6 separate regions of the Homo sapiens genome follow, and regions 1, 2, 4, 5 and 6 are each linked to region 3. Evidence: fine-mapped expression QTL. A gene starts in region 3. Each other region holds a variant in brackets. All regions are shown on one strand. Distances are between the middles of the regions. Region 1 holds the start of LOC105378560 (a long non-coding RNA gene). Region 2 overlaps MGMT (O-6-methylguanine-DNA methyltransferase). Region 3 holds the start of MGMT (O-6-methylguanine-DNA methyltransferase). Region 4 overlaps MGMT (O-6-methylguanine-DNA methyltransferase). Region 5 overlaps MGMT (O-6-methylguanine-DNA methyltransferase). Region 6 has its middle 76 kb from the start of LINC02667.

Region 1 (5,072 bases), 240 kb after region 3:
CTATAGTTATCTTTATTTCCGCTTTAACTGCATAAGAGAGGAAACCTTTTTAACTATAAGGAAGGTGTTCGGCTTCCTTTTATCTCTTGCCTCATTATGTACTTTTGACTTTATTCAGATTTGTACAAGCTTGGTTTTTACCTCACAGGAAAAGCGAGAACTAATCGCTCCAGAGATCATCTGAGCTCTTTGTGTGAAGGTGTTTTAAGAAGTTGTGACTACATCTTCTTTTCTAAAACAGCCTCCAATTCTGTGATACAAAGTGAAATGCCAGTTGTTTGCAGCTCCGGGGCTGTGGTCCTCCTGGACACCAGCGGTAGCAACAGGCCCCATCCACACAGGGCTGGGGAGACAGGTCCCCTTCTGCACGGGGCCCAGGAGACAGGCCCTCATTCATACAAGGCCAGGGAGACCAGCAGAATCAGCACGGGGCCAGGGCAACAGCCCCATCCACACAGGGCCGGGCAGACAGGCTGAATCCGCACAGAGCTGGGGTTGGAGCTGAGAGTCATCCCTGACCCCAGCTTCATGGTCCTCCAGCTCTTCCCTGCACCATTGCCATGTTCTTACTGCTGCAGCCCTGCGTCAGGGCAGCTGCGGTGCCTTCTGCCTCTTGCCAGGGGCCCCCAGCCCCCACCAGTCACACTGTGGGCCGCACTCATAGGACAAAGTGCCCTTCCCGCCCTGACACGCACAGTCCTTGCCCACCTTTCTGTGAGTCTCAGTCCCCGAGGCCTCCACTCTGCGTCTACGTTCACACTGTCTGTCCTACGTCCGGGATGGCTCTGTTGCCTCCTCTCCATGGACTGGCCGTGCATACCTTGTGTGGACAGAGTTGGGACGGTGCTCCCGGCTGCATCGGCCGCCTGTGCTGGGCCACATGTCCAGGCAAGTGAAGCCTTCACTGGGACCCTCCCAGAGCAGCATGGGTGTGTCGAGGAGAAACATTCTGTAGATCTCAGCGCACGCCCCCCAAGGCAGCCCAGGAAGGAAGGGTGAAGGGCCCGCGGGAGCTGTGCGTCCACAGCATCCACAGTGCAGTGACGTTTCCCACCTTTTCACAGAAGCCTGAGGAGCAGCACTGTCTGCAGAAGGAAACTAGAAAACTTCCGTGCTCCAAGCCTGGGAAGTCCCGGGGAAGCATGCCGTTTGTCTGGGGCCTCGAGAGGCAGGGAAGGAAGGAAGGGAGTCACCTGAAGAAATCGGACCCAGGGCCAGGGCTTCCCACGGGGGTCCACAGCACTTGAAATCACAACGGGATGTGTCATGCACTCCACAGCCCCAGGTGGCAGCGGGAGACCTCCCCTTCAGGGCCATGTCCTCAGTCCGTGGAACACAGCCCCAGAAAATCCACCCCTGCTGGAGATGGGGAATCCTTTCCATGAGGGCCCACCAGGTCGAAGCCACAGATGAATGAACACCCCAAACAGAAGCAGCCACAAAACAGTCTGAAGCGACTCCCAGAGGTACAGGTTCAAACTGCAGGAAATCAAAGGGAGGAGAGTGTCCAGAAAGAACCAAGAGGGCCGCGCAGTAGCTCACACCTTTAATCCCAGCAGTTTGGGGGGCCCACGCGGGCGGATCACCTGAGGTCAGGAGTTCGAGACCAGCCTGGCCAACGTGATGAAGCCAACATGGAGAAACCCCATCTCTACTAAAGATACAAAAAGTTAGCTGGCCGTGGTGGCAGTCGCCTGTAATCCCAGCTACTAGGGAAGATGAGGCAGAAGAATCACTTGAACCCGGGATATGGAGGTTGCAGTGAGCCAAGATCGAGCCATTGTACTCCAGCCACGGCAACAAGAGCAAAACTCCGTCTCAAAACAAACAAACAAACACCAGGAAGGTTTGAGAAAGAACCAAGTAGACACAGGCACACGAGGCACAGGGCTGCCCCCGAGAGGACAGACTCACCGATGAAGGAAACACAGAGTAGGCCCTCTGGAGCGTGGGAATCAGGGGACTGCAGGTAAACCCTGAGGAATCCCCTGAACACAGCACACGGCCATGGAGGAGGCAGAACGCGTGGATGTGGCCTTGCGTTGTTGGACTCGGGGTGGGGTGGGCCGTGTGGTGCAGTCTAATGACTGTGTCGATATTTCTGGGAACTGTTTTCAATAGTGAGTGCTTGATGATTTAGGTGCAGCCGTGCCATCTGTAAGTCTTACAAAGGGACACTGTCACTTGGGTTGCCTTGCGCTGTGATGCAGACTCTCAGAACACACGTCCTGGGAGGCCTGAAGGTGGAGAGTGGTTGCGGGGCCTCGGTGCGTCCTTGCCTCACCAGTCCCCCTTTCTGCTGCACAGCTAGTTGAGACGTGTGTGCCCATGAAGCAGCCACAGGTGTTTGCCCGTTTAGATGCAGTAGGTGTTTGCTTTTCCGATGTGTGGAGGCAGGGCCCAGAGGTTTACTAAGCCCCTGTTCTCACTTTTGCAGTGCCGTGGAGGTCCCAGCCCCCGCTGCGGTTCT[C/T]GGAGGTCCGGAGCCCCTGATGCAGTGCACAGCCTGGCTGAATGCCTATTTCCACCAGCCCGAGGCTATCGAAGAGTTCCCCGTGCCGGCTCTTCACCATCCCGTTTTCCAGCAAGGTCGGTAACTAAGCCATCTGCGGTGTTTCCTTTGGGGAGCTTGACTTATTAACGATCGCTGACATCACAGTTCATTTTATTGAGTATACCAACTTGGTATTTTTACATCAGCTAAACAGAGGCAGCGTTTGGCCGAGCTGGAGGGACGGGGGTTCGCCGCCTCCACCCACTCCAACACTTGTGTTAGTTTTGGCACAGGGTTGCATAATTCTTGGCAAAGGCAATAAAAATGAAGCATGCAGATCGACTCTTGACTCTCGCTGGCTGAAAGGTTTAAATAGGAACACATCTGAATGGCAGTAAATTTTTCAATAAGCTTATTGTGAACTTCAACTATCTGCTTGCCAACAGCACAGAAAACGAGACTTGTGCGTGGACATTTAGCTATTTCCATACACTCTGTTGGTGACACTTACATCATAGCAGGTAGCAGCATTGGAGCTTCTCAAATAATTTTACATTTAATTTCTCAAACGTACCAGAGTTAGACATATTCTTTCTTAAGAGATGACTTGAGAACTTACCTGTATGTAGCCTGCTTAAGGCTTGTGATAATCTAAAACATTTCCCAGACATTTCTTTTAAAGCTTGTGTTTGGCTCTGCTCAATACAGAAATTAATTACAGCAACTAAAATCATTCCAGACACATGCCAGAAATTTATTTTGCATAGTGAGTTTTTCATAATCATTTTTGTGTATAAATGAACATATATTCATATATGATGTATATATGGAGTTGTACACTTATATATCCTTAAAGGGAAAAATTACCTTGAGATTTTAGATGTGGTGAATTTAAAGCAATTTTGAATTTCAGATCAGATTTGCTGGGTAAGCTTAACAGTATTCTAATTGCTGCGGTGCTTCTCAGCACAAAACAAACTTGAAAATGGAGAGAACTTTTCAAGGGAAGCAGGTAAAGAAACCCCTGAAGGTTGGGCTAATACCTGAGTTCACTAACCAAGTCAGACAGGCGAACATATGAAGTCATGAGCACGTTTTGTGCATAATGAACTGAAGCTGTGCAGCTATAATGAACCAGGCACCTTGCTGTCCTCTGAATCATACAGAACTGTCTCCAGAAGGGTTCAGTGGGGATCTCTAGGATGGGCAGATAGGAAGCTAGAGTGGGTGGGCCTTTACATGGAACCACAAACGTCCAAGAAACCTCTCATCATCTCTGCCCACCAATGGGCTGCTGCCAGGACAAAGGCACTACCAAAGCCTCCTGGGCTGCCGCCAGCTGGGGGCCACCTCTCCCCAGCGCCACAAGCCAGTGAGCCAATTAGACGGTGTGGGGGACCTTGCTCACTGTGCACCTGATGGGCCGGGCACAGGGCAGGATGTTGCTGAATGGCCCAAGGAAGTCAGAGATTGGTTTTGTTTATTAAAGTTGGGGCTTGGGGATCTTAGAGTGGTGAACTCTTCTCTATACGATCTCTTTTTGGGGGTTCGCCTGCCAGGAGGAGCAAGGCTGAAGAGCTGTCCAGAGGCTTTTCTTCTCCTTAAGCCTGTGAAATATGTGAGCTGAAATGTAAGGTCTCAGGACAGAAAAGTTCTCTTACAAAACCAGGGCAGGAGGTATCTGCATAATCATATGGAGGCTGGGAGAATGAGCCTGCAAACCCCTGAAGTTTACCTAAGGTTTGTTGGGCAACTTCATGAAAAACATAGGGGCAAAAGTTCCATGAAAATCGTTAGTTTTCTCCAAGTCATATGGTGGCCCTGGCCATGGAGCTAGACCCTGCTGGCCTGGTCTCACCAGGGTCCAGAGAGTGGTGTGCTCTCAGGCAGGCCAGGAAGAACCGGAGGAGGAGGCCTCCGCAGCTGCTGACAGGAGCTCCAGGGCAGGAGTGGCCAGCAAGGAAGGTGGCACCGGAAATAATCAGACACTCTCCAAACCACCCCTGCAAGCACTGAACCCCCGCTGAGCCTTTTCCCCCTCACTTCTGCCCATGGCAGTGTTTGCTGCTCCTAGAGCCGAGGACAGGCGGGCCCCTGGGGCTTCTCAGTCAAGTCCCTAGTGCTTAAGCAGAGTTGGGATTGGCCACACCTACCCCTGCCTCCCTGGCTTTCAGCCCACGCCAGGCCAGGCTGCTTCCTGGGCTGGCAGGTCATGATAGGTCTTGGTGACCAGGAAGACCTCAGAGTAGCCGCCAGGATACTGGTAAAGGCTGTCTGGCTCCCCCGTGGCCCTGCCCCTCTTGGAAAGCCCTACAGTGCGGGTGGATACCTCTAGCTGGGACGAGGTCCACTCCAGCCAAGTTTTGGGATGGTAGTGCGACAGCCGCTCACATCCTTCTCTCTTGGTGTTCTAGAACTCTGAGGCTGGCTGCAGACCCAGGGTGCTGAGCTCAGGGCCTTCTCTCGAGGGTAGGGGCTGGAGTCCCCTGGGCCAGGCCTGCCTGCGGATGGTTAGTGGTTGCTGTGGGGGCTGGGATTCCCCACCACAGCATGTGTAAGCCAGGTTTTTAACATTTAGCTC
Region 2 (5,072 bases), 190 kb after region 3:
GTGGAGCCACCTTTGGGGATGCGGGGAGAACTTGGTGGCCCTCAGAGACCCCTGCTTGGAGACCCCACCTCCCCCTTGACAAGACTGCGGCCTGTGCTGGGCACAGCTGGCCCAGAGCGAGGGCCACACCCTACTACTGCACCCTCCACGCCTGTCTGTCCTTGCCCACCTCGGTGGCTGCCTCGCCGACCCCCGCCTTGCAGCTGGAGTAGCTGTGCTGATAAAGATGCAGGTGGGAAGCTGGATGGTGAGGTAGCCCATCTGTGGTTTGGGATCCGAGAAGACGGCAAGACCTCAGCTTCATGAGAAGAGAGACCTGAAGATCCATGCTGGGGAAGGGCGAGGATGGAAAGGGGTGCAGGGCGTGGAGCAGGTGCCCAGGTCGGGTACAGAGACAGGCCTGGGACCTGGAGGACCTGCACGCGGGGTCGGGCACCTGCCACACTCTCCCATGTCTTTGAAGCCTCTTGTGGTAGAAGAGAAGGTGCTCATATTTTACCTTCTGTGCCTTAGTATGTAGTTTGGTATTGTGTTAAGTGGACAGAAATCACATACCCCTGCTCACTCTGAGCCTGCATCCTTTGACCGTCACTGTGAACCTCAGATCGAGACACCAGCCTCAGCGGGGGCTGAGATAGGGCATTCCCCATTCCCACTGGCTGCTTGGAGGGCTGTGAGGGACCTGCTGCCTGGAGCACAGGGCCTGTATGGGTGGGTAAGTCCCTGGAGAGACAGGAGGAGGCAGGGGTGTGCAAGCCTCTTGAGGTATGAGGAAGGTGGCCGGGGTCTCGGGAAGCTTGTCTGGCCCTGGCAGGCAGGACAAGGGCCCCCTCCTGCCCATACCTCTACCTTAGGCCCCTTGTCATGACACGTGATACCTGAGGGTGGGGGGCTGTATGGGCATTTGGAATGTGACGGCACAAGCCACAGTGGGTCACTTGTTTCTACAAATGCCTGAGAAGAAAACTATTCTTCTAACTCAGAGAAGTGGGATTTCCCACTGAAAATCAGTGGAAATCACTTATAATGGTCTTTGCAAATTCCTTGCATCTAAGGAAGTGCCTGTGGAGCAGCAGTGGGAGGAAACCATTCAGGCTCGATGGAGAGGGTGACCGCTGCACCCTCATCCCTGGTGTCAGCACACTACCGAGGTGCTCCTGGTTTAAGGACGTTTGTGCACCCACCCGGAGGTATGCATGGAAAGAAAGCACTGCAGCCATTCCCCAGCCAGTGTAGGGGTGGGACACAGTCCCGTGGGGGCCCCGCGGAGGGCCTGGGCAGATGCAGGGCTGCGCACTGCCGTGGTTTCCTGTGTGTCTGCCAGGAGTGAAGACCTGAGCAGCCTCACTGGCCTGGTGTGGAGGGGCCGCCTCCGAGCATGCGGAGAAGTGGTTTGCATGGCTGGAAGTCAATGTTTATCTGTCTTTAGACTCAGTTGAAGACACATTTCTTTCACACATTACCATTTTTAAAACCCATTAAGGTCTGATTTTCCAAGGCGCTGACCCTGACGCTTCTAGAGGGCCTCATCCCGGAAGCTGGTGGGGAGAGCAGGAAAATCTTCCCCGTTGAGTTTTAAACGTCCAGACCTTTGTTGTCTCCTTGTGACCCTTGCAGGAGAGCTCTCGTGGCTTCTGTGCATGTTCGTGTGTGACTCGCCCGGCTGAGGGACTGGCATAAACAAACAGGGATGAGTTTGTAAAACACTTTGTAATCCCTTGAAAAGGAGAAAAATATAAATGAAAATCACTGTTTAACAGTGAAGGCAGGAAGGGAGCTGTTCCTCAGTATAGCTGTGGGTTGTCGTTACGTGAGCAGGAGGGAATTTCACTTTGGATGGATTTGGATTTTCTCTTCATGCTCATGCTCTCTAAATCTTGCAAAAGCACATGGTAAACACACAGCGCATGTGTTTCTGGAGGAAACGCACAGTGTCCATATAGAGCAGGCACTGATTTTGCACTGAAAGAACGTGGATGAGAAGTTCCACGTGTTTAAATAAACTGGCAACAGCGGTCCCAGATAGCTTAGCCGGGCAGCAGTCAGAGGTGCCCTGGCCTGGGGACTGAGCTAAGGTCTCAGAAGGGTCAGCTAGCCAAGCTCTTCACCGGACAACCCCTGAATTAACCAGACACATCACAGATGCAGACTGTTGATTCCAGGGAACCCAGGTGAAAGGCCAAGGAGAGGTGAGGTAGTTGGTGCGGTGCCCCTCCTGGAGTCCCTTCAGGACTATGGCACTACAGTTCTATGTAAGCTGTCACCCAGGACTCATCTTCAGTGGAGTCTGGACTGCAGTCGGGAGGTGACAAACATCCATGGCATGAGGGCAGCAAGAGCCCCTCTCTTGGGAACCAGTTGTGGCCACTATCTGCCCAGTGAACATGGGCTTCAGCCCCGAGCATGGGAGGGCTCCTGGTTGGGCATCTCCCTGGGAGTTCCTTGGTACTGCCTCCTGCAGGGTGAGGAGGGGTGGGGCCTACTTCCAGGCCTCTGGAAGCAGCATCGGCATGTCCTTTCTGGTGTGAACTCCAAATATCTGAGATGGTCTCAGTTAATTTAGAAAGTTTATTTTGCCAAGATTAAGGACATGCGCCTGTGACCCAGCCTCAGGAGGTCCTGATGACA[C/T]GTGCCCCAGGTGGTCGGGGCACCGCTTGGTTTTATAGATTTTAGAGAGACATGATACATCAATTAATATATGTAAGAAGTACATTGGTTCTGTCCAGAAAGGCAGGGACAACTCGAAGCAGGGAAGGGGCTTCCAGGTCACAGGTAGGTGAGAGTCAAGTGGTTGCACCGAGTTTCTGATAAGCCTCTCCAAAGGAGGCAATCAGAGATGTCTTTCTCTCTGTGAGCAGAGGGATGACTGAATACAACGGGAGGCAGGTTGGCCCTGAGCAGTTTCCAGCTTGACTTTCCCCTTTAGATTAGTAATTTGGGGGCCCCAAGGTTCTCCTTTCATGCTGGGAGGAGGGTTTTTCCACACGTCTCAGACCCAACTCTCGGGCTTCTTAACCCAAAAGAACTTCCACGCAGAAGGCAGCGAAAATAGTGCACTTCATTTTCTAAGACATCTAAAGCTGCCACAATGACTGTGAGTTAGGTGAGCTCTATGAATTAGGCTAGGGATTTGCAACCACTTAGCAAGTTCTAAGTAACTGTAAAAGATCCCATAGACTGCAAATTGTGTTTCATTTGGGGACAGATACCCTGTCTTGGGGATTTAAGTGTGTTTACCTGCCCAGAGTTGACACAGACGACTGTCCCTTAGCTTCCTTTCCTCATGCTGGTTTTAAGTGCTTCGAATCGGGATTTTCCTACCCATCTGATGCATTCCATTGAAAATTCAGGAATACACATGTATGTGACTGTTTATTGGCAAGTAATTGTGAAATAGGCCAGAAATCTACCAGCTTCCTTTAATTAATGTAACAAATACTTAGCAAGGACCTCCTGCATTCTAGGGATTGTGGGGGTGGGGGGGGGAGCAACAAACAAAACAGATAAACCCTGCCCTGAGGCGCCCCTTGTCTTGTCTGGGGGTGGAGGTGGGGCAGGCGTGAGACAGAAGAAACAGGTAAAATACAGTTCAAAGTCAGGTGCTGGTCAGTGTCTTGGAGAATTCTAAAGCAGGGAGGAGGGATGGGGTGAGTTTTAAATGTGGTGACTGCTGAAGAAATGGCCTCTGACAGCCTGGAGGAGGAGCTGGAGCTGGGGGGGGGACAGGCTGGCCAGCTCCTCCAACACACACACACACACACACACACACACACACGCACACACACACACACACACACCCCCTCTCCCCCAAGGACCCACAAGGACTGCGGCCTCTTAGCGTGTGTGGAGTCATCACACTGACCCTTAGCAGTGTGGCCTGACTTCATGAGGCCCCCGTTGTCATGGAGATGCTGGGAATGGGAGGATTTGCCACCCTCCAGTGAGGAGCCCCCATCCCATGAGTGCAAAGCCTGAACCGGCCCTTCCCTAATTGGCACCTCTATCCTATTTTCTTTGGCTGAGGAAATTCTCGTAAATGTATATTTAATGTGGTGTTGAGATTGGTAGTTCTCCCCCATCCCCCAAAGATCATCAAATCTCTGGGGGTCTTTCAAAACCTAAAGGTGATCTCCCTGGTCCTATTATGCTGTTTTGTTTTTGCTTCTTTTCTTTTTCTTGAAAGACCTAATTGTGGAGTTTTTTCCCCCTTCTATGAATCCCAAGTAAGGAACTAAAATGGAAGACGGGCTTCTGGCTCCCGCTGCAGCAGATGGGATAATTCTACAGGTGATTGCCCTGGAGGTCTGCAAGGGAGGGAGAGCGGCACCATTAGACTAACACAGCTCTATTATTGACTAATGACGAACAGCGTCGCCTTGCCTTGCCACCTTAAAACAGACACAGGGATTTGCTACTCTATTTGTTTTATAAAATATGCATTGAGAGCAACACCAAAATGCTGAATGACAGGTGACCCTCAGAGCACGCCTGGTATGCACTGCGTTAGCTTGCCAGTATTTCTTAGAGACTTATTTGATTCTAATTCAGTAGGATTTTTAACCCCAACATTTTGAAATCTTGCTTTGAAAGTCCATGTTATTCCCATTAACGTCAGTGAGTTTTTCACATATCTAAATATCTAATATCATGCTTTGAGAATTGAAGCCCAGCCTGCTCTTTAAAAGCAAGGGAGCTCACCACATCCTGGAGTTCTGCAGTGATTTGACATGTCCTGGAAGAAATTATCTTCGCAAGAAAGTAAGTTTAGTTGATTGAAATGAAATTAACACCACATTTCTGTGTCATAATGTATTAACCTGATTGGCTAGCTGGATTCCAGCCTGTTTACAAACATCCTGAAGCCTAGATGGCCCCTTCCTCAGTGTCCTTAACTGCTGTTCTCGCCCTTAGCTCGCGTGCCCAACCCTAAGGCTGAAAACGCCCCCTGTAGGCTACTGTAAGCTGTAGCATTCAAGGCCTCCCAGGTGTCGCTGTAATTTCTTGTATACATTTTAGCTCCATCTGTGGCATAGGTACCATTCAATGTTATCTTAATACACTAGCTTTGGATT
Region 3 (5,072 bases):
TGGACCCGGCGACCTCCCGGCTTTGGAGCCATCCTGTGTTCCTTTAACAGTAGGACGAACACACAGGCGATGATGAGATTGTAATGGGACAAGGGGGAGAGGCGTGGGGAGCTCTTGATGAAAACTTGGGTTTTTGAAATTACCATGATGAAGGGAGGAGCTTGCACCAGCAGGTGTAAGGAGTGTGAGTTTGAGTTCTGCTCATCAGACAGCCTAAGCAGTCACATCCTTGAATCCTGGTCTTTTGCAGGCCAGTCCTTGGTCAGGTGGTGGCCTTTTTCCTCTTTCCCCTCTGCACTGAGACCCTTATTTGGCTCCTGATCCTGGAGCCCCTGACACAGTCCTTACCACTGAAGTAGCTGTGGCCCTTCACATAGTTCTTCCCACCACGCCAGCAAGGGGACTGAGTTCTTTCAGTACAGCCAGGGCCAGGTCCACACATCTCCCTGGGAAGCCAGCACTTTCTCTCGTGGACCGCCTCCCCATTCCCACAGGGCCCTCCTAAAGGGCCTTTGGATGACCACATTGGCCTTTCTTTCCTAGGGTGGGGAATTAGAGATGCTAAGACTGGCCAGTCTCTTTTTCTTAAGAGTTTAGGGATTCGTCTTAAAATATTATTCAGATAAACGTATGAGTCATGTGTTAACTGCAAAACTACTTAACAGCACACTTGTTAGAATATCAGTCGGCACTCTGATTCCATTTCGGCATTGTTTTTCCTTTGGTTCTATTAAGATCCCGGTTCTAACTGGGTCCTGGTAGTAACAGGCTGTAAGTGGCCAGGTGTATAGCATTATTTCTTAGTAGTGTGGTGTGGTGCTGGTGGTTTATTTTCCCTATGCACACATGCCCTAATATGGAAGGATAGTTTGTACACACGTAGGGTACGTTATCATGAGACTCCTTTACAGAGTATGAAACTGAGGATTAGAGAAGTCAGACGAGTTTCCCGAAGTCTTATAGAAGGCTAATGGAAAAAACCAGAGCCAAGGGCAAACATGTTTCATCTGTCCTTCCACATTAGTTTAAATGTGAATGGCTGCTTGGAACACAGTGTTGAGAAGGATTCCGAGGCTGTGTCCAGGTTCAGTGGGGAAAAAGTGCCTTGATTTGACCATTATATCGTGTACTCAGGGCCTAGTTTATTTCCCACAAGCAGCTATTTAAAACATGTCTCATCCAAGGCAGGGTCGGGGTGGGGAACCTCAGAGGATCAATGATGCAGCCTGTATTGTCACCAGGGCTCATCCCAAAGCAAATCCTGCTGAAGTTCTCCTCTGAACAACCCTTATCACTCATGCTAATATGTTGGATCCTGCAAGTCACAAATACGAAGGTATGAGCATTGGCCGAATCCCAACAGGGAAACTTCACCGGGAAGGTGAAGACCCCTTTCCATTAAGATAACAAACAGAACCTAGAAGGCCCGTAGCATGGTGGCTTAGAACATGTGGGCCTTGGATGGGATCCTGCCAAGGGGTGTGTGACCTCTCCGAAGCCTCCAGGGATGATACTACTCCCTGGGGTGCTTATGCCAACCACGTTAGAGACAATGGTTTCTGTACCCATTGCCTGGGGCTGCCATAATAAAGTGCCACACACTGAGTGGCTTAAAACAACAGAAACCTATTGTCTCACACTTCCGGGGGCCAGAAGTTTGAAACCCAGGTGTGTTAGGATCCTGCTCCCTCTGAAGGCTCCAGGGAAGAGTGTCCTCTGCTCCCTCCGAAGGCTCCAGGGAAGGGTCTGTCCTCTTAGGCTTCTGGTGGCTTGCAGGTGCAGCCCTCCAATCCTCCTCCCCAAGCGGCCTTCTGCCTATAAGGACACGAGTCATACTGGATGAGGGGCCCACTAATTGATGGCTTCTGTAAAGTCCCCATCTCCAAATAAGGTCACATTGTGAGGTACTGGGAGTTAGGACTCCAACATAGCTTCTCTGGTGGACACAATTCAACTCCTAATAACGTCCACACAACCCCAAGCAGGGCCTGGCACCCTGTGTGCTCTCTGGAGAGCGGCTGAGTCAGGCTCTGGCAGTGTCTAGGCCATCGGTGACTGCAGCCCCTGGACGGCATCGCCCACCACAGGCCCTGGAGGCTGCCCCCACGGCCCCCTGACAGGGTCTCTGCTGGTCTGGGGGTCCCTGACTAGGGGAGCGGCACCAGGAGGGGAGAGACTCGCGCTCCGGGCTCAGCGTAGCCGCCCCGAGCAGGACCGGGATTCTCACTAAGCGGGCGCCGTCCTACGACCCCCGCGCGCTTTCAGGACCACTCGGGCACGTGGCAGGTCGCTTGCACGCCCGCGGACTATCCCTGTGACAGGAAAAGGTACGGGCCATTTGGCAAACTAAGGCACAGAGCCTCAGGCGGAAGCTGGGAAGGCGCCGCCCGGCTTGTACCGGCCGAAGGGCCATCCGGGTCAGGCGCACAGGGCAGCGGCGCTGCCGGAGGACCAGGGCCGGCGTGCCGGCGTCCAGCGAGGATGCGCAGACTGCCTCAGGCCCGGCGCCGCCGCACAGGGCATGCGCCGACCCGGTCGGGCGGGAACACCCCGCCCCTCCCGGGCTCCGCCCCAGCTCCGCCCCCGCGCGCCCCGGCCCCGCCCCCGCGCGCTCTCTTGCTTTTCTCAGGTCCTCGGCTCCGCCCCGCTCTAGACCCCGCCCCACGCCGCCATCCCCGTGCCCCTCGGCCCCGCCCCCGCGCCCCGGATATGCTGGGACAGCCCGCGCCCCTAGAACGCTTTGCGTCCCGACGCCCGCAGGTCCTCGCGGTGCGCACCGTTTGCGACTTGGTGAGTGTCTGGGTCGCCTCGCTCCCGGAAGAGTGCGGAGCTCTCCCTCGGGACGGTGGCAGCCTCGAGTGGTCCTGCAGGCGCCCTCACTTCGCCGTCGGGTGTGGGGCCGCCCTGACCCCCACCCATCCCGGGCGAGCTCCAGGTGCGCCCCAAGTGCCTCCCAGGTGTTGCCCAGCCTTTCCCCGGGCCTGGGGTTCCTGGACTAGGCTGCGCTGCAGTGACTGTGGACTGGCGTGTGGCGGGGGTCGTGGCAGCCCCTGCCTTACCTCTAGGTGCCAGCCCCAGGCCCGGGCCCCGGGTTCTTCCTACCCTTCCATGCTGCCAGCTTTCCCTCCGCCAGCTGCTCCAGGAAGCTTCCAGAAGCCCCTGCGCGGGCCTTGGCTTGCAGCAACCCTTTAGCATACTTAGGCAGAGTCCCATATTTCCTTCCTGCTGGAGGCCAAGTTCTAGGGGCCTTCTGGTTACTATGGCTGGTGTTTGTGTACATCATACCCTAACTGTATTCATCAACACTTAGAGTAAGCAAGGCTCGCTGGAGAGCCACACACACTGGGCACCGTAATGTCGGTTATAACACCGCAGAGGAGTTCTGAACTATGTATTTCGCACTCCTGGGTTCATCATCTCCTGAAATCTCAGGGTGGTGTTTGCTCTCAGTTGCTTCAGCTGAGTAGCTGGCTTTCTGTCCTGGAAAGCAGACTTTGTACATGTGTGTGCAACCTATGCCTGCTGAGATCATCATCAGACAGGGAAGCGGCTTGGTCCAGAGAGCTGTTCTCAGTAGAATGTTAAGCACAGAGAGCTGAGAATTAGACTGGTTATTTACATAGACATCCAAATAGAAACCTATAGAGTATCTGTTAAGTCAGGCTCTCCCGTCATCTCCCCCATCCCTGGGCAGGTGTCTAGGAGATGGTTTTGTTATTTTCAGGGCCCTCTCAATGGCTAAAACACTCTGGGAGATGAACAAGATTTTAAAAACCCAAAGCTTAGCGCACCTGGTGGGTGGGGGTGTGAAAACTTTGAAGGAAACCGCGTCAAGAGCCTGGCTGATTGTTAATATCACGTTAACTCAGAGGGCCAGGATACTTGCCCAGACCCGGAGTCTGCCTGCAAGTAGCAGAGGAGAGCTGGCCTTGCTCTGCCGCGTGTCTTTCTTCCTGGGCCCTCTGTCTCGGGTTGGAATTTGAATAGTGGAGTAGTGTCTGCCACAGTCAGGGGCCTGGATGAAGTAGACCACCAGTACGGAGCTATACTCAGGTACTTTTCAATGTATATATCTTCATTAAAAAAAAAAAATCTGGGCCAGGCACAGTGGGTCACGCCTGTAATCTCAGCACTTTGGGAGGCCGAGGTGGGTGGATCACCTGAAGTCAGGAGTTTGAGACCAGCCTGGCCAACATGGTGAAACCCAGTTTCTACTAAAAACACAAAAATTATCCAGGCGTGGTGGTGCATGCTGGTAATCCCAGTTACTTGGGAGACTGAGGCAGGAGAATTGCTTGAACCTGGGAGGCGGAGGTTGCAGTGAGCCGAGATTGCGCCATTGCACTCCAACCTGGGCGACGAGAGTGAAACTGTCCTGAAGGGGAAACAAAAAAATCTGTATCAAAATAAGGATTTAACTAATAGTATTAGGCACTACTTTAAAAAGGCTTTGCTGTTAGTAAGGTTGAAAGAAATAGAGCCCTAGGTATACATTGGGTAGCACCTTGTTCAGCTGCTCAGATTCTTGAACCTTGTTGAGGTCTTACTTTGATATCACCTGGGCCTTACTTTTCGTTGTTTGGGTTTCCTCCCCAGGTGTCTCAATCAGGGCCTCCTCTGTCCTTTTGCAGGGAAGAAGGGGGTAGGAAGGGCCTGAAAAAGAACTTGCCTTCCCCATTGCCCCCTCAGAGTTTGTTCCTCTCCAGTCCTCTTCCCACCCTTTCTTAGGACACCAAAACCCTGACTCTTTCAGTATTTTATAATAAAATAAAGTTACTAAATTGTCTGTTCTGTTTTGCAGAGGACACACATTTAGGAGCCAGTGATTCAGACCTTCCATTTTTCTTTTTGGTGCTAATGCTCTTTTCAGTATATTCTCTTTGATAGAAAAAAAATGGAGGCAAAACTGAATTTTCTGCATTATCTTTTCCTTTAGCATTATTCTTGTTTCTGCACTTCATTCTGACCCCCTTCCCCAGCATAAAGTTCCATGTCCAGATCCACTTGCCCTGAGATTTTTGACTTCCGTTTGGGACTCTAGTCCCTCCAGGGGACACATTGAGCCTCCCAGA
Region 4 (5,072 bases), 140 kb after region 3:
TCAGCTAAAATTTTTAAGTGACAAGAACCAAAATAATCGTTAATTTTTATAGGGCAAGGATCTGGCTTTTTGTCTGACACAAAGCTGTATAAAAAACTGCTTCTGATTTTATGCACATTGTTTTTAGTTAATGATTTTCAGCTGTTTGTTGTTTCTCTGATAGCATGAAAATGTACCATATGCTCAGCCCAAAGACAGATGATTAGCAAGTGAGATTCCGGGCAGCTGTCTGACTGAGCGCGTTGGGTTGATAGCATTCTGCTATCATAATTAGCTTAAGCTTTGGGTTAATTAACTTTCTACCTGGATATGCATAATAATAGCAAACTGCAAAAAGCAAGAAGCTTTCAGTACATCAACAACATTGCTGTCTTTTTTATTTGGTATTTCAAGAGCATATTAGAATTTCAAGAGTGATTAATCCTGGGAATATTGTCATCTACTGTAGATTTTATTTGCAAGCCAGATAATACTGAAACAATTGGAATCTATTATAGAGCAGAAATAGCATTTTAAAATTGTAATTAAAGTTTCTAAAAGCAATTGCTAATTTCAAATGCCTTTGTTGGCAAGAATATTAGGCACACTGCTTCTTGTATGGGCAGCTTGTCGGGCACAAAAAATACCAGCACTTACACTGTGAAGAATAAAACTTTCTTTTATTTAAGGGCTGTATTGAAAATAATCAGTTATTTTTATGTAATTTGAAAGTAAGATTACTCTGTAGTTTGCAGAGGTGCTGTTCAGACTCCTAGATTGAAGATATTAACCCTGTGCCCTCTTGCAGGTTCTCACCTTTGTTACCTCCTGAGCAGTGGAGGGCTGGAGGCCTGGGTAGGAGTGCCTGGTGCCCTCTTAGAAGATTTGATGTGTGCGTGTGTCTGCGGGTGCCAGAGGTCAGATTTTTCAAAAGTCAGTGCTATACATTTGTAGCTTGATATTTGTTTTCTACCCCAAGCAGTTTCTAAATCAATTTACTGATGGTATGAAATGGGGAGAGGGAGGGCTTTGTCTCCATCCTCCTCCTTGTTTGCATGATTTACCAAAGCACTCTCTACGACGCTCATCATCTGAAGGGGCTGCCGGGGCCTTTGGAGAGCACAAGCTAGTGAAGTGGATGGTGGATTTGGAGTAAAAATTGTAGTTTACATTTCCCAAAGCACCAGAGAGCCTAGCACTTAATTCTGAAATAAGTCATGCCTGTTGTTACACTCAGAAAAATATTTTATCTTCTGAAAAAAAAATTCTTTACATATGCAGTGGATGGTGAAGATTTGGTGGCGGTGAATTTGCCCTGGCTCCAGAGGACTTTACTTACAGAATCAGCAGTCGTGAAAACGTGCTTTCTCAGATGTGTGACTTGTGGTCAGTCTGTGGGCTCAGGAGCACCCATTTGGTCAATCCATGCAAGTTTTATGGGGCTGTCAGAAGCCATTTTTCAAAATTGGCTTCATCTGAGGACACGTGGAGGAGCCACTCTCTTGGTGTGGGTAGTGAAAGGAGTGGCTCCCTGTGGCTCTGTCTTGGGAGTTGGGGGCTGCAGTGGTTCACTGGGAGGAGGGGGTGCCCCTGCAGGCCCCACCTGCACCCCACCTCGCCGCCCCACCCCCTCCCCCCGGCTTTCAGGCTGTGACCTCAAGGCCTTTTATCATTTTCACAATGATGTCTCCAACAGACCTTTACCCCAGTCTCAAAAAAGATACTGCCAGAGCCTGCCTTTGCTTTTTGTTTAGTCTGCTTCGGGCTGCGTCAATAAAGATAGCAGAGGGGTCAAGAGAAAAGAAGTGAACGGAATCACAGTTTTGGTGTTGAACCCTTAAATGGGGGCCCCACTGTCTCTGCTGTGTAGCAGGCACAGGATTATCTGTCTGCCTTCTGAGATTTCTTTTAATGTTTTACCAAATTAA[A/G]CATGAACAATTTCAGGATGCAAAAACTTGACTGCATCTTGTTGTTTCTTAAATAAGAGCACTTTAAGAAGGCAATATATGGAGATTCTTTTGTGGGAAAGATGTTTCAAATGGGTTATTACTGGCCATTGAAAGAAAGAAAAAGAGGAAATGCATCGAGGCCTCATTTTTTGGCCTGCACATTTGATTATTTTATTTTAAATGCCATTTCAAACATAGTGTAAACTAATGATATTATTTTTTAAAAAACTTACTCTACTATTTGCGGTCCTTGATCTTTAATTTCTTTTAATGTCAAAATTATTTATTTGGCCAGTTCCATTCCAGATGTGACTGTTGAGGGCACATTAATTTCTATTCTGTTTTCATGGGCCCCTGTCCCCATCTGTACATCATTTCTGACTTCCGTGTGCTCCCTAGGGAGTTCACTTATTCATATTGTAGGTTTCATTTGCTGTGTAAACAGAATAAACAGACAATGCAAAAATCCCCACAATACCAGAAAATAATTCTTTTCAACAACATAGTGGATCATATTTAAAAAAAAACATGGAAAATGCAATACATGTGAAGCCCATTTTTTCCACTTTATTGTCCTCCCGAGGAAAGGCTTGTGTTACCAGTGCATTTCCCTTGAATTTGATAAGTTCATTTTTATTAAAAATCCATCCCAAACAGCATTTTACGATAATTCTCAAACACGTGTTGTGGACATTTCTTTGTTTTGCGTATTAGCTTGGTCTTGCGGGTTAATTCGGAATGTGTTACTCAACTGGTATGTGCTTGCGTGGCCAAAAACACCCGTTGTGCTGTGTGTGTGTGAAAAGCAACATTCAAGAACGGTGATTTTTTTTTTTTGACATTTACAAATAAAGAGGGACATGAGTTATTTATGCTCCAATGTTGCTGCAAAGTCCTTATCTCCATTTGGCACTAAACAAGGATTTGTTGTGGGATTTGTGAGGGCTGCGCAGTGCCTCTGTGCTAAGCACCCAAAACTCTAGGGGACTGGCACTAATTTCCTCTCTCTCGTAAAACAACGTAGTATTCATAACAACTCAAGAGGCTTGACATAAGTAATGATGGCATGTGCAGGCGAAGATTACCACCCAACAGTGTAATCAAGGTGCTAGGTACTAATGCAAGTTAAATTGAGACAATAATGCCGAAACTTGCATTGTGGGATTAGGAGGGCACTTGAAATGCTGACGTGAGCACATCCTGCCTGCCTGCCTGTCTGGCGCTCCGTTCCTGTTTATACTTAATGACCTCAAAATTTGTATGTCGTTAACACCGTGTACTGAAGTGGGAGAGAACACGGTTTGGGAGGGAGAAGACTCCCTGTCTTCGTTGACTTTTGTCTCTTTTGGTAATTGGTGGCTTTTCCTGCCGTATTAGGGAGCAAAGCGTGCAGCGGGGAGGCCCCTGAGGTCTCTGTAAACATGCTGTGGGCACCGAGGGCCTCCGCACCCGGCGCTAGGCAGTAATTTACATACTTTGAATGAAAAGTCATTTGTGCCTGCAAAATTGTTATTGCTGGAAGAAATTTAAATACTAGTCATATGGAAATTTGAAATAAAGTCATATTAAATTTTGATGCTCAGATCAATATTGTGGAGCCCCGGTAATTAAAGTGGGTTTGTTTATTTGGCTCCTTATAAATAAAAAGGGCTTAATACAGACTAATTACACAGAATCTTTCGTCTACGGTGGGATAATAATGGCAGCAATTTAAAGTGATATTAAATGAGAATTAATAAAGGAATATTGAGTCACTTTGACTGTATTAAGCTGTGAAATGATTCCTCATCTCAATTTAACTTTCTGTCTTGAGCATAATGTTTGATAAGCAATGCATTTTTGTAGGAATAATCTATAACAGTATTTGACTGCAATATTTAATAACAACTAGACTTGTGACTTTATGTTGTTTTTAAATGGGCTGGGAAAGCCCGTTTTTTCTCTGCAAATTTATAGGACAACTTAGAGGGTTCTTGCCCTATGGTAGCTTCACAAGAGTTCTGAGTTGGCACCCTCCGGTTTGGGAGGTAGGTGGAGATGGCTTTGACTTTTGTTCAACTTACAAGGGAGTAACTTCTTGGAAGTGCAGTCCGGGCCAGCAGAAATGGTCATAGTAGGCCATGGTGGAAGGAGAATCAGAACCACGCGTAAATCCTCAGAAGGAAGAGGGCAGTCATTTTTTTTTTTTTCTCTTGGAGGAATATCCCGGGAAGAATTACCTGGAAGAAATCAGAGTGGTTTTGGAAGATGGATTGTCGGATAACATTTTAACTTAAGGGCTGAAGTTCCTTTCTACCTAAGTACCATTGAAGAAGTATGTTCCTGATCTTAAACATTTTTAATAGCAGTCTAGGCCAATTGACTCTGTGACCATTAAGTAATTTTCAAGTGGACTGGCTGCTGCCAGGGTGTTTGTGTTTTGCTTTGTTTTGTTTGCAGAGTAACTTGTGTGTAATTTCTTTCCACTGTGCCGCACAGCATGTCATGTCCACGTTAGCATTTCTGCCCTTTTAAAGGGTCCTGCTGAAGGTCAGGACCTCACACTGAACACCCTTTTTATATATATTACAAATTGCTGGAATTGTTCATTAATTTCTGTCTTTGAAATGCCATGTCAACCCTCTAAAGGAATTCGCAGTGCCAGTTTCCCTTGGACAGCTGCTCACCATGGTCCAGTGCGAATTTCTGATGAAATTACAGGTGCAGGGAAATGCAGAATTAGAAATATATCTGATGTTGCAATACTTGTGAAGCTATAGCTTTGTTGATGACAGGACAATTCCATTTTTGACAGTTTAATTTACTGTTGCCAGTGGACAAGAGCAAGAGGAGGACGTGGGGTTAGCCACCTGCCCCCTCGTACCGTGTTTCACATGCGAGGTTGCCAAATCATGACTCCCTCAACCTGTCGGGCTCAAATGAGAAGGTTTTCAGCTGGGAAAATGGAATATATCAGTGCATGTAATATTGCCTGACCTCATAAAACAAAAGGGAAAATTGCAGATTCTGACAGCCATTATGAATCTTGTATCAGCATCCAAAACGACTTGGAGCCAGGGTATAGTACATGTTTATAATAGAAAAAAAACGGGGTTGCCACGTTGACTTGCAATATGGAGCAAAAAATGACTTGTCATAATTCGT
Region 5 (5,061 bases), 170 kb after region 3:
GTTTCCTTCACCCTTTCTCATTGCACTGGTCTACTGCAGGTGACTTCTTACAGTTTTTTAGTGCCCAAAATGTCTTTATTGCTTCTTGATTGTTGAAAGGTATTTTCACTGGGTGTAGAATTCTAGATTGACAGGGTTTTTTTCCTCCCAATACTTTACAGATTTTGCTACACTGCCCTCTTGCATGCATTGTTTCCATTAAGAATTCTGCTGTCATCCTCATCTTTTTGTGCCTCTGTGTGACATGATTTTTTCCTCTGGTAGGTTGTAAGGCCCCTTATCAATTTTTTGAACAATTTTATTGTGATGCATCTTGGTGCAGTTCTTCATGTGTCTTTTACTTGGTTTCACTGTCCATCTTGTATCTGTGCATTTGCAGTTTGCATCAAATTGGAAAATATTTTGGCTATTTCTTCAAATATATTTTTTTCCTTTTCCTTTCAGAAACTCCAACTACAGATATGTACGATTTCCTGAAGTTTTTCAAAACCTCACTGATAATCCTTCCTTCCTTTCTTCCTTCCTTTTGATTTCCTTTCTCTGTCCTCATTTTGTGTAGTTTCTATAGGAATATATTCAAGTTCACTAATTTTTTCTTTTGCAGTGTCTAATCTATTATTTTCATTTGATGTATTTTTCCATTGTAGGTTTTTTTAGTTTTTAATTCTGAAAGTTCTCTTTGGATCTTTTTTTTACTATATTCTATAATTCTAATTAACTTTTTGAATGTCTGGAATACAGTTACATTAACTTTTTGCATCCTCGTCTGCTAATCTTAACATCTGAGTTAGTTTTAGGTCCATTTCAATTGACTGGTGTATTTCTTCGTAATGGATCATATTTTCCTGCTTCTTTGTGTGCCTGGTAATCTTTGATTGCATGTCCAGTATTGTGAATTTTACCTTGTTGAGTTCTGGTTATTTCTGCATTCTGATAGATTTCCTTGAGCTTTGTTCTGGGATACAGTCACAGTTAAATTACTTGGGAATAGTTTGACTCTTTTGGGTCTTGCTTTTAAGATTCGTTAGGTAGAACCAGAGCAGTGTACTGAGGCCAGCCCCCTTTTCAGCTCGCCCCGGATGGTCTGTGAATAGGAGGCATTCCAGTGTGGCTGTCAGGAAAAGTCATGCTCCCAGCCCTGCAAGAGCAGCGGTTACCACCCTGTCATCCTCACAGATAGCTCTTTTCCTGCCTGGGGGAGCTTCCTGACATGGCGGTGCCCATCAGTACTCTGATGAATATGTGAGGGTGACCTGTTGCAGATCTCAGGATTCCTCTTTCTGAGATGTGTCTCTGTCCCTCCAGTTCTGTCCTGCAAACTCTGCCTGTCCTGGTTTCCGGGCTCACAGCTCCATCCCCTCAGTTTGGGAGCTGGCCAGGCCCTTCCTGTGTGCCCCTCCGGGTGCCCGGAACTCTCAGGGCAGTCGCAGCCTTTTCTTCCTTGGTTTTCTGTCACTCATCTGTCTCTGTACTTTGCTCTCCAGTTTCTTGAAAAGTGTGTTCTATTTAATTTATTTTTTCTTTTTGGTTCTTTTTGGTGAGAGGGTCAATCTTGTCTCTTACTTATTTTATCTTGCCTGGAAACAGAAGTGCTGGGGTGTTTTTTAAAAAATAATTGTAAGATACATAATTTAAAGCTGTGCTATTATAGTATTTACATGAAGTTTTAAAAAGAAATTTGCTTCCCCTAAACTTTCTGATCATCGATAGCACTTTTTGAGGCAGGGAGCCACTAGTGGTCACCTATGTCTGTTAGCAATAGACAGACATGTCTGTTACTTCCAAAGGACTCTCACAGTGTAAACTGAGGACCCTCTTACAAGCTGGTACGGGAAGACCAGGCCTGCATCTGTCAGAGATGAGAATAAGACAGATTCTCCTAATCAAGCTGCAAGGAGCTCCTGCTGTAATCACTCCAGAATATATATCAAGAGTGGATGTGTGTTCTCTATGGCAAAAAACAGGCACTGGAAAATTTACATATTTTTAGTTTAAAATATGCATGCTCTTGGCCAATATGTTTGAACTGAAAAAAGATAGAATGTGGTTTTCTGAGTTATCTTCTTTTTCTTTTTTCTCAAGTTAGTTAAGATTTATAAGGTGCTTACTCAGAAATTCATGGATGAAGTACAACGTTCACCTTCACAA[C/G]ACTTTGCTCTGGTTACAAATTTTTGTGGTGTAGAAACCCCCAAAGTGCCTCGTATTTTCTCACCCGAGTCCAGCCGGAGATACTGACCTTGGTCTAGATCGTCACCTCTGAACCATTCCTGAAGAAGTGGGTAGACACCCCCTCAGGACTGCTGTAAGAGTGGAACACATTCACGTATAACCAGCACAGAGGTTAGTATTCAGTAAGCACTCAATAAATGTTGGCTCTGAAGAGATTCTTCTCATTTGCATCATTGAAAAGGGGTCTTTGCAATGATGCTTATAGCCCAGTTTGGGGTGAATCATACCTCTAAGCAACTGTCATTGAAAGAAGGCCTTAATGCTGATAGTCATTGTTTCAGTTTTACTTTTTATTTCTTTGTCTTGGCTCTCTGGCTAGGCCTTTAATACAGTTTTGAATAGAAGTCGTGATAATGGGCATTCTTGTCTTGTTACTAAATTTAGAGGAAAAGCTTTCAGCATTCCACTGTTGATTTCCTGTGAACTCTATAGATTGTTTTGTGGATACCCATTTTCCCCCAGAATGAAAGATCTTTTTGAAATTATATTATTCTTTCTTTAATGAGGCCATTTTCATATTTGCATTTATGAGAAAATGTTTAAAAAAGTATGTGAACATAAATTATATAATCTTTTGAGTCAATCAGAATTATACAATTGAAAAATAGTCTACAATTAATGATATTCAAGTATCTTTAGATTTTAAACTCATTAAATGAACATTGAAAGTTCTGTTTTCTAATTATAGAGCCGAGTTTAAATTGACAAGAGCAGCCACACTCGAGTTGTCTAAGTCAGAGGCTTTATAAACCTGTTGGATTTTCCAAGGGTTGCTTCTCTTGAATAAAGGTGTTTTTGTTTCTCACATATTTTACATTTTCAATGACCTGTTTAGGCAGAAGCACCTTTTGTCACTAATTAGTGTGGTGTGACAAGTAACATAATGCGTATCTGAAAAGCTCCACTGGGTGTAAGTGGAGTTCACACCTCTTAATGAGTGCCTTCAAGAGTGTTTTTGTCATTCCCAGGGAGAACTAGTGCCCCTTGAATAGAAAACTGCTGTAAATGGAAAAAGGATGTGTCTTAGGAGCCTGGTGTAAGTGCAGATGGGCCCACCCTGTCCTCTGACTTTAGGGCCTTCCTCAAAGCCAAGGCCCTCTTGTGCGATGGGGCTCTTCTCCTTCTTAGAATTCCTACATCCAGAGTAATGGAGACGACTTGGGATCATGCTTCAGGATATATGTAGGTGCTCAACACAGGCTGGTTTCTGTTTTTAATTTCTGGCAGAATGAACCACTTGAAAATGAATTTTCATTACGATTTTAGGAGGGCTGAGAGTAGATGAGGTAAGAGATCTGCCTAGGGGGCAGGATCGAAGGAGGCTGTCACTCTCAGATTTGTGCAAGTGACTTGTGTTCCCCAAATTCACATGTTGGAGCCCTAGCCCTCAGTACGTCGGAGCGTGACTGTATTTGGAGATGGGGCCTTTAAGCAGGTACTTAAAGTTAAATTGGGGTTGTTAGAATAGGCCCTAATTCAGCCTGACTAGTGTCCTTATAAGAAGAGGAGATTAGGGCACAGATATACCATAGGCTTCTGTGCACAGAGATGACCATGTGAAGTGGCAGCAAGGGGTGGCCGTCCGCAAGCCAAGAAGAGAGGCGTCAGAGAAAATCAACTCTGCCAACACCTTGAACCTAGACTTGCAGCATCCAGAGCTGTGAGAAAATAAATGTCTGTTCTTTAAACCACCCGGTCTATGGTATTTTGTTATGGCAGCCTGAGCAAATTCATTCAGCAAGTGCCAGCCTTGCACTCGCGGGAGAGTGAGTGCCTCCTGCAGTGCTCAGTCTGGTCTCAGGCTGAAATTCTAGGTAGATGCACATTTTCCCAGTTGGCAGGTGCTGGCTCATGCTGAAGGGGAACATATGCTCAGGATTCCTGCTTTATGTACTTCAAAAGGAGACATGTGACATGTTTCACTTAACTTCATCTAAATTTCCTAGACACACCAATCTGTAACGGTTTAGAACTCAACCCGGTGGTTATACAGCTTTCCTGAAGTGGAGAGGTGGGCTACTTATCTTGTATGAGTCCCATGAGAACTAAAGAACAATGGTTCAAAAAACAGATGGATGTCTCCCATCTTACATTCCCTCCAGGAAGAAGTAGTTGAAGAAATAATGGATATAAATTTCCTTGAATTAAGAACACATGAAAGACTTAAGAATAAGAAGTCCAAGAGAGGACCAAAGAGGCAAAAAAAAAAAAAAAAGAAAAAAAAAAGAAAAATAACTGACGTCTATCTAGAAGAGCACAGTGAAATTTAAGAATAGAGAGAAAAATCTAAAACATTAGCAAGAACAAACAACACATATAAAGAACCAGTGGTCATATTGGCTTCAGATTTGTCAACAGCAATATTGAATGTAAGAAGAGAATGGAGGCATGTTTTCAGCGTATTAAAGGAAAATAACTTAGAACAGAGTTTTATATGCAGCTAAAACTTTAAAATATGAGGGCTTGGCAAAACTATTCTCACAAGGCCTCAAAAGTTACACCTTAACAATTATAATAAATGTAAATGAACTAAACTCACCAGTAAGAAAAAGACTGAAAAATGGAATAAAATATAAAATCCAAATATACGCCACTCAAAGGTTATCCAAAGTATAAGGACTTTCAAACTTTGAGGGTAAATGGATGGAAAGAAGCATGTCAGGAAAATACCCAAAGAAAACTGGCATAGCTATAATGATATGTAAAATAGATTCTAAGACTAACAGCCTTGTTAGAGATAGAAAAGGTGAATACACAATAACAAAACAAGTAAAATAGATTAACAGAGTAAAACATAAATGACAAAAATAATTTGTATTCTTGAAAATATAT
Region 6 (5,072 bases), 630 kb before region 3:
AGGAACCGAGAGAAAAAGAAGTAAAAAATTGGATTCCAGTTTTGGCACTTTCCAGTTCCATTTTGGTGAATACACTCAGGAGGCTTGAGGGAGCTTAGAACACGAGCTTGGAAAGAGATGCTCAGAGACCCATAAACAGACTGTGGCCATCAGGGAACATGGGGCAGTCAGCCTTCAGCTGCATTTTTTTTTTTCACCAAGCTTTTAATTTCAATAGGAACACAAGGCACTGATGGAGTGCTTTTGGGTCTCAACTGGTCTCAGATTTTTAAATATTAAGCCAAATACTCAATTTAATAATGCAGAAGAATTTAATTTTGAGTCCTGACTACAGATCAGTGTCGAATTCTCAAACAAGAAGAGGAGGTGGCAGGGGTAGAGGGGAGGACAAGAGCTATTGATGTGTTCCCAAGTTCTTCCAGCCTGGTCCAAACATTACTCCATGAGGGTGGGCCCCAGGGGCCTCTGGCTACACTTTCCCAGGTCTACCTCCCAGGCATTTTATTGCAAATGAAATAGGTTTCTAACCCTCCTTAAATCTATTGTACTCACTATAGCACAGCTGGGCAAAAAAATATTGGACTGTTGGGCCTCTGAGTGGCAGATGGCACCAGCACACTCACCTTGACAGGGCACGTGGAAACCTGCTCCCTCAGGGCCACAGGGAAATGATTTCCATTAAATAAAAGCAGAAATACCCTGATTAGAGGGCTATATGGTTAAACCCCAATAACAATTGTTTAGTGGTAATGACTGGAATTTAGAACTCTGTAACTTAAGAGCTTGGAGGCACATCTCCAAACAAATCAGCCTGCTCTTTCTATATTCCCTGATGGACCCAAGGCTTCGGGGACCCTTCATCAGGGAGATGGGTGGTCTCTTGCTCTTCTTCCCCATCTTTGGCCAGACTGATCCATGTGTGGTGTAGCCTAAAGAGCTCTGGGCTTAGAAGCGAGATGCCAGGTCCATGCCAATCCTCTCCAGAGTTCGCTGAGTTCTCCTAGCCAAGTTGTGCCATTTCTGCAGCCTCCATTTTACCCTGGAAGAGGAAGGGGGCGGCATGCATCATCTCTCTCATGCCTTACAGCTTGGACACGCCGACTTTTGGCACCCAATGATGACAAGTGGGGGCTATGCCCCTTCAGCCCAGGGCAGCACCAGGGCAGGTCAATCAACCTGATGTGTCACTCAACAGTGTATCCAAGACTGGGGCTTGGGGTAGTTCATTCCTCAAGTTCCGTTCAAGGTCTGTGTGTATATGATTCTTTAGGGGGAGATATGAAATTGACAGCACATTTTGCATCCTTTTCATCACAGGCCCCACTCCAAGCTCCAAATTTGCCTACTGCAGGGTGCTCAATCTCAGCCATCGAAGAGCCCTTCCTCTGTTCTTGGGGCAGCACCAGAATCCTGTGAGCTTGGTGACGCCAGAAGTCAGAGAAAGGCCCAGCTGAAAGGTCCTGGAGGCAAGTGGCTCTGCTGCTTCCAAGGAGTTTGGGCACAGGAATCACCCCCCACGCCAGGACCTGTGGTTGATGCCAAGAGTCCAGCCTCCCTAGTAGCCCCACCCGCTGTCCTCCAGCGAGGTCTTTCTGTCTCCCAGGGTCAGGGCAGGAGCCAAGCGAGTGTGGAGCCCCATGAATTGAGAAGAACTGCAGAGTTCCAGCTCCTCCAGTCATGGAGATGTTCCCATCTGCCCAGCATCTCCTGCTGCTCACAGGCAAGCTAGCTGCTGGTGCACTAAAGACTGGCAGGCAGTTTTTCTGAAACTTCTTTTGCTTTCTGCCCTGCACTTCGAATCAAAGGAACTGAAGCTACTTGCAAAACAATTAACCAACAATTCAGGGACAAGAAAATATCCACGATTAGCTCAGAAAGGTTTTTTGCTATATAGCCTAAGTCACTCTTGAAGTGCATAGGGACACAACTGGACACATCTCAGAGAACAGGAGGAGGGGGTATTGAAACTTCCCTGTAAAACACCAAAATAATAAATAAAGTACAAGATCATAAGTAAAATGACAGTGTAGGCTTTTATGTAGCAAAATGAGTTTGCAATATAAACTCATTCCTTTTTTGAAAAAGTCATGATTTTACATTCACCCAAAATATGATCGACTCAGGAAAGGACCATCAATAGAGACTAAAACCATCACTCATATATTGCTAATGGAAAGATGCACACTTATCATGAAAAAATATAGCAGTTCTTATCTTAAGCAGCCTCAGTAGTGATGGGGAAACCTGTCCTGTGCCCATGAAGTTCGACCACACGAAGTCCAGCTATTTTTGCCAAACATATTTACCTTGGGTCAAGCCTTTATACCTAACCTCTGTTTACAGGAGATTCAGAGGCTAGAAGAAAATGTTAAACCCCACCACATGGAAACCATCAGAGAAACTCTGCAGTGGGACTTTGCATAAGACAAGGCACCTGGTCTTTTCAAAACAACATCACACAAAAAATAGGAGAGACATGCTCTAGACAAAAGACACTCAGAAGTGACAACAGCCAGAAGCCGTTCATGGTCCTTCACTGGATTCTGTCTGAAAGAGAAAACCATCAAAGACATTTTGAGGAAAACTGGAGAAATTTAAGTATGGGCTAAATAGTAGATGAATTTAGGGAATTATTACTACCATTCCTACCTATGATAACGGTGTTTTATGTAAGAGAAAGTCCTTGTGTTTGGAAGCTGCATGCTGATGTGTTTCGGGAAGTGTGGCATGATGCCTGCACTCACTTTTAAAAGATTCAGCTGGAGCAATAACTTGAGATAAGCAAATGTGGGAAATACGAACAACGATCAGATGCATGAGACAAGTGCATGGATGATCAC[T/C]GTGCTACTCTTTCCGTCTTTCCCTATGATTACAGAAGTCCAAGGCAGCTTGGAAATATGAAGGCGTGCCTGGCTGTCTGGTGGGAACTAAGGGTCTAAGCCATGCAAAGCCCACGTCAGAATGGCAGGACAAAGGAAGCCGCTGTCGGACAGCAGGCTTCACACAGGTGAAAAATGAGTTTTACAACAGTACATGCCAAAGATCTTGGGGTTGCTGAGCCTAGCTTGATGGACAGATTGTGTTAGCTGTGAGATCATTGGTTATATTGATCAAGATCAAGGTAATAGAAATGCCAGTGGGAGCTGGCTCTGGAGTGTGGGTTTCCCCAGGAGAACACAGCAGACCTCCCAGAACCATGCATTTCTTATTAGCATATTCAGTGTGAGATGAAGCATCTTACTTAGTTTCGCATTTGATCTTTGTATGAAAGTGCTTTAAACAAAATTACACACACTGATATACCCCAGCATTAACCTTCCTAGAGGATAACTTTGTTCTGTGTTCAAAAGTATCAGTGGCTCTCCATTGCCTACTGAGGAAAACAAACTATTTAGTGTAGCGTTGTGGGCCCTCCCTGATCTCCCCAAACCACCTTTCTAGCCTTCTTTGCTTTAGTTCCTTACTGGGCCTGTGATCAGCCATGCTGGGCCGCTTGCCATTCTTCTAAATTCAGCTTCTGTTTCTGAACCTTTGCAGGTTTATTCCACCAAGAAAGCACTCCCATCTCCATCTCTCTGGAGTTAAAGCTGCCTGGGACGGAATCCAAGTTTCACCATTGATTGGCTGTATAGGGAAGTCACTTCAACCTCTTTAAGCCTCAGTTTTCCCTTCTGCATAATTAGCTTAATGCTGACTTCACAAAATGGTTGTAAGGATTAAAAGAGATAAATACCATGTGTCTGGCTTTGGGCTAATACATTTACATATAAGGACTCAATTAATGTTTATCTATCTATCCATTCATCTATCCATCTACCTATCTATCTCTCTATTGCATCATCGTCATCATTAATCAGTATTCAGTAAATGTCAGGTAAATGAATAAATAGAATAATATTAGATAAAAGAATATTCAAAGGCCCCGACTGTGTAGTGATGCCAAGCCGAATCAAATCCAGGAGGGTCCTGTTCTGGATCCACGGTGCCCCAGATTGAACCAGGCTGATTTCCTGGGCCTTGATTCTAGGGGCTCCTGGCAGCACAGGGTGGAATGCAGGGCAAGCAGGACATCCTCTGAGGGGCTAGTTAAGGTGAACCTACAGAGGATCATTGCAAGGAGAACATTATCTGTCCCACTCTCCACTGGTTCCACAGGAGGGAATCCAAAACCTCAGCTGGGTCCCAGTCAGGGAAAGACAGAGGAAGATTCCTTCCTAACATCTGACCTTAACCTTGGACCCACATTTGGAGAATTCCCTGAACTCACTGTCTCCTCCCACCTGGCTCATCTTGACTCCTCCCTTTTGCTTTGAGAAGTCTTCCTGGATGCCTCTGCCAGGCTGGACCTCTGTGCTCCCCTTCCTGGCCCCATAACACCTAGTCCTTCCCTCCAGCATAGCTCAGTTTGTCTTATTTGGAAACACTGTGCTTCTCTGCTTCCTTGCAGCACATGCTCCTTGAGCCAGGAGGCTGTGCGTGGCCATCCACCCAGTATTTAGCACAGGGCCTGGCACACGGCAGACAGTAAAGGACCATTTGTTGAATGGGCAACAGTTGGCAACAGGCACACAGGAAGTATCCCCGGATGGTGCTGGTGACGTTGATGATAGGCCCACATCAGCACAGCCAAGGCAGCATAGCCAAGCTTACTTGGAAGCATCCAAGATGAAGCCATCTTGGGAAAAACAAAGCCACAATGAGCACTTAACACCTGGCCAGTAGTGGGAGGAGTGAATGAGTATCAGTTTGCCATCGCTCTTCAGGGCAGCCTGGTGGGAGCCAGTGCCACCTCTACCACCAGGGCCCAAGTGGCTGGCAAGTGTTCCCTCATGCATCTGTGGGCTGGTAACATCACGGTGAGGCCAGGCTGCTTCAGGGCCATTTGCAAACAGATTACCCTCTAGGTGCCATATTCCAAGTGAGTGGAGAGCAAGTCCACAGCTGAATACAAAAGCGACATGTTTCCTTTTGTTCTGCTTTCCCTTCTCTGTAAAACTCACCACTTTTCAAATCAGACATGGATGAAGCTCTGGGGCTTGGCAAACTTAGGGAACATAAAGTTTGCAGAGAAT

The links. PIP is the estimated chance that this variant, and not a neighbour inherited with it, causes the effect.
Region 1: its variant is fine-mapped to the expression of MGMT in whole blood (INTERVAL, PIP 0.92).
Region 2: its variant is fine-mapped to the expression of MGMT in whole blood (TOPMed, PIP above 0.99).
Region 4: its variant is fine-mapped to the expression of MGMT in whole blood (INTERVAL, PIP 0.97).
Region 5: its variant is fine-mapped to the expression of MGMT in lung (TOPMed, PIP above 0.99). The same link has a PIP of 0.9 or more in esophagus mucosa, fibroblasts, skeletal muscle, subcutaneous fat, sun-exposed skin and testis.
Region 6: its variant is fine-mapped to the expression of MGMT in anterior cingulate cortex (GTEx, PIP 0.95).

Annotation. Positions count from the first base shown.
Region 1 is chr10:129,705,458-129,710,529 of GRCh38, forward strand. It overlaps MGMT (O-6-methylguanine-DNA methyltransferase), which reads left to right. Exons shown (of 5, transcript NM_002412.5): 3 at 2,438-2,586. It overlaps LOC105378560 (a long non-coding RNA gene), which reads left to right and starts at 2,593. Exons shown (of 2, transcript XR_946467.3): 1 at 2,593-5,072. The variant C/T (reference allele first, on the strand shown) is at 2,471.
Region 2 is chr10:129,653,932-129,659,003 of GRCh38, forward strand. All of the region lies in intron 2 of MGMT (O-6-methylguanine-DNA methyltransferase), which reads left to right. Among named protein-coding and RNA genes, the nearest start is that of MIR4297, 190 kb to the right of the region's middle. The variant C/T (reference allele first, on the strand shown) is at 2,629.
Region 3 is chr10:129,464,507-129,469,578 of GRCh38, forward strand. MGMT (O-6-methylguanine-DNA methyltransferase) reads left to right here and starts at 2,735. Exons shown (of 5, transcript NM_002412.5): 1 at 2,735-2,790. RefSeq lists silencers at 2,375-2,814, 2,835-3,034 and an enhancer at 2,601-3,523.
Region 4 is chr10:129,603,133-129,608,204 of GRCh38, forward strand. The region is part of intron 2 of MGMT (O-6-methylguanine-DNA methyltransferase); the gene reads left to right. Among named protein-coding and RNA genes, the nearest start is that of MGMT, 140 kb to the left of the region's middle. RefSeq lists enhancers at 1-204, 1-883 and silencers at 1,377-1,456, 1,537-1,626. The variant A/G (reference allele first, on the strand shown) is at 1,908.
Region 5 is chr10:129,634,002-129,639,062 of GRCh38, forward strand. All of the region lies in intron 2 of MGMT (O-6-methylguanine-DNA methyltransferase), which reads left to right. Among named protein-coding and RNA genes, the nearest start is that of MGMT, 170 kb to the left of the region's middle. The variant C/G (reference allele first, on the strand shown) is at 2,149.
Region 6 is chr10:128,833,982-128,839,053 of GRCh38, forward strand. No RefSeq gene overlaps it. Among named protein-coding and RNA genes, the nearest start is that of LINC02667, 76 kb to the right of the region's middle. The variant T/C (reference allele first, on the strand shown) is at 2,841.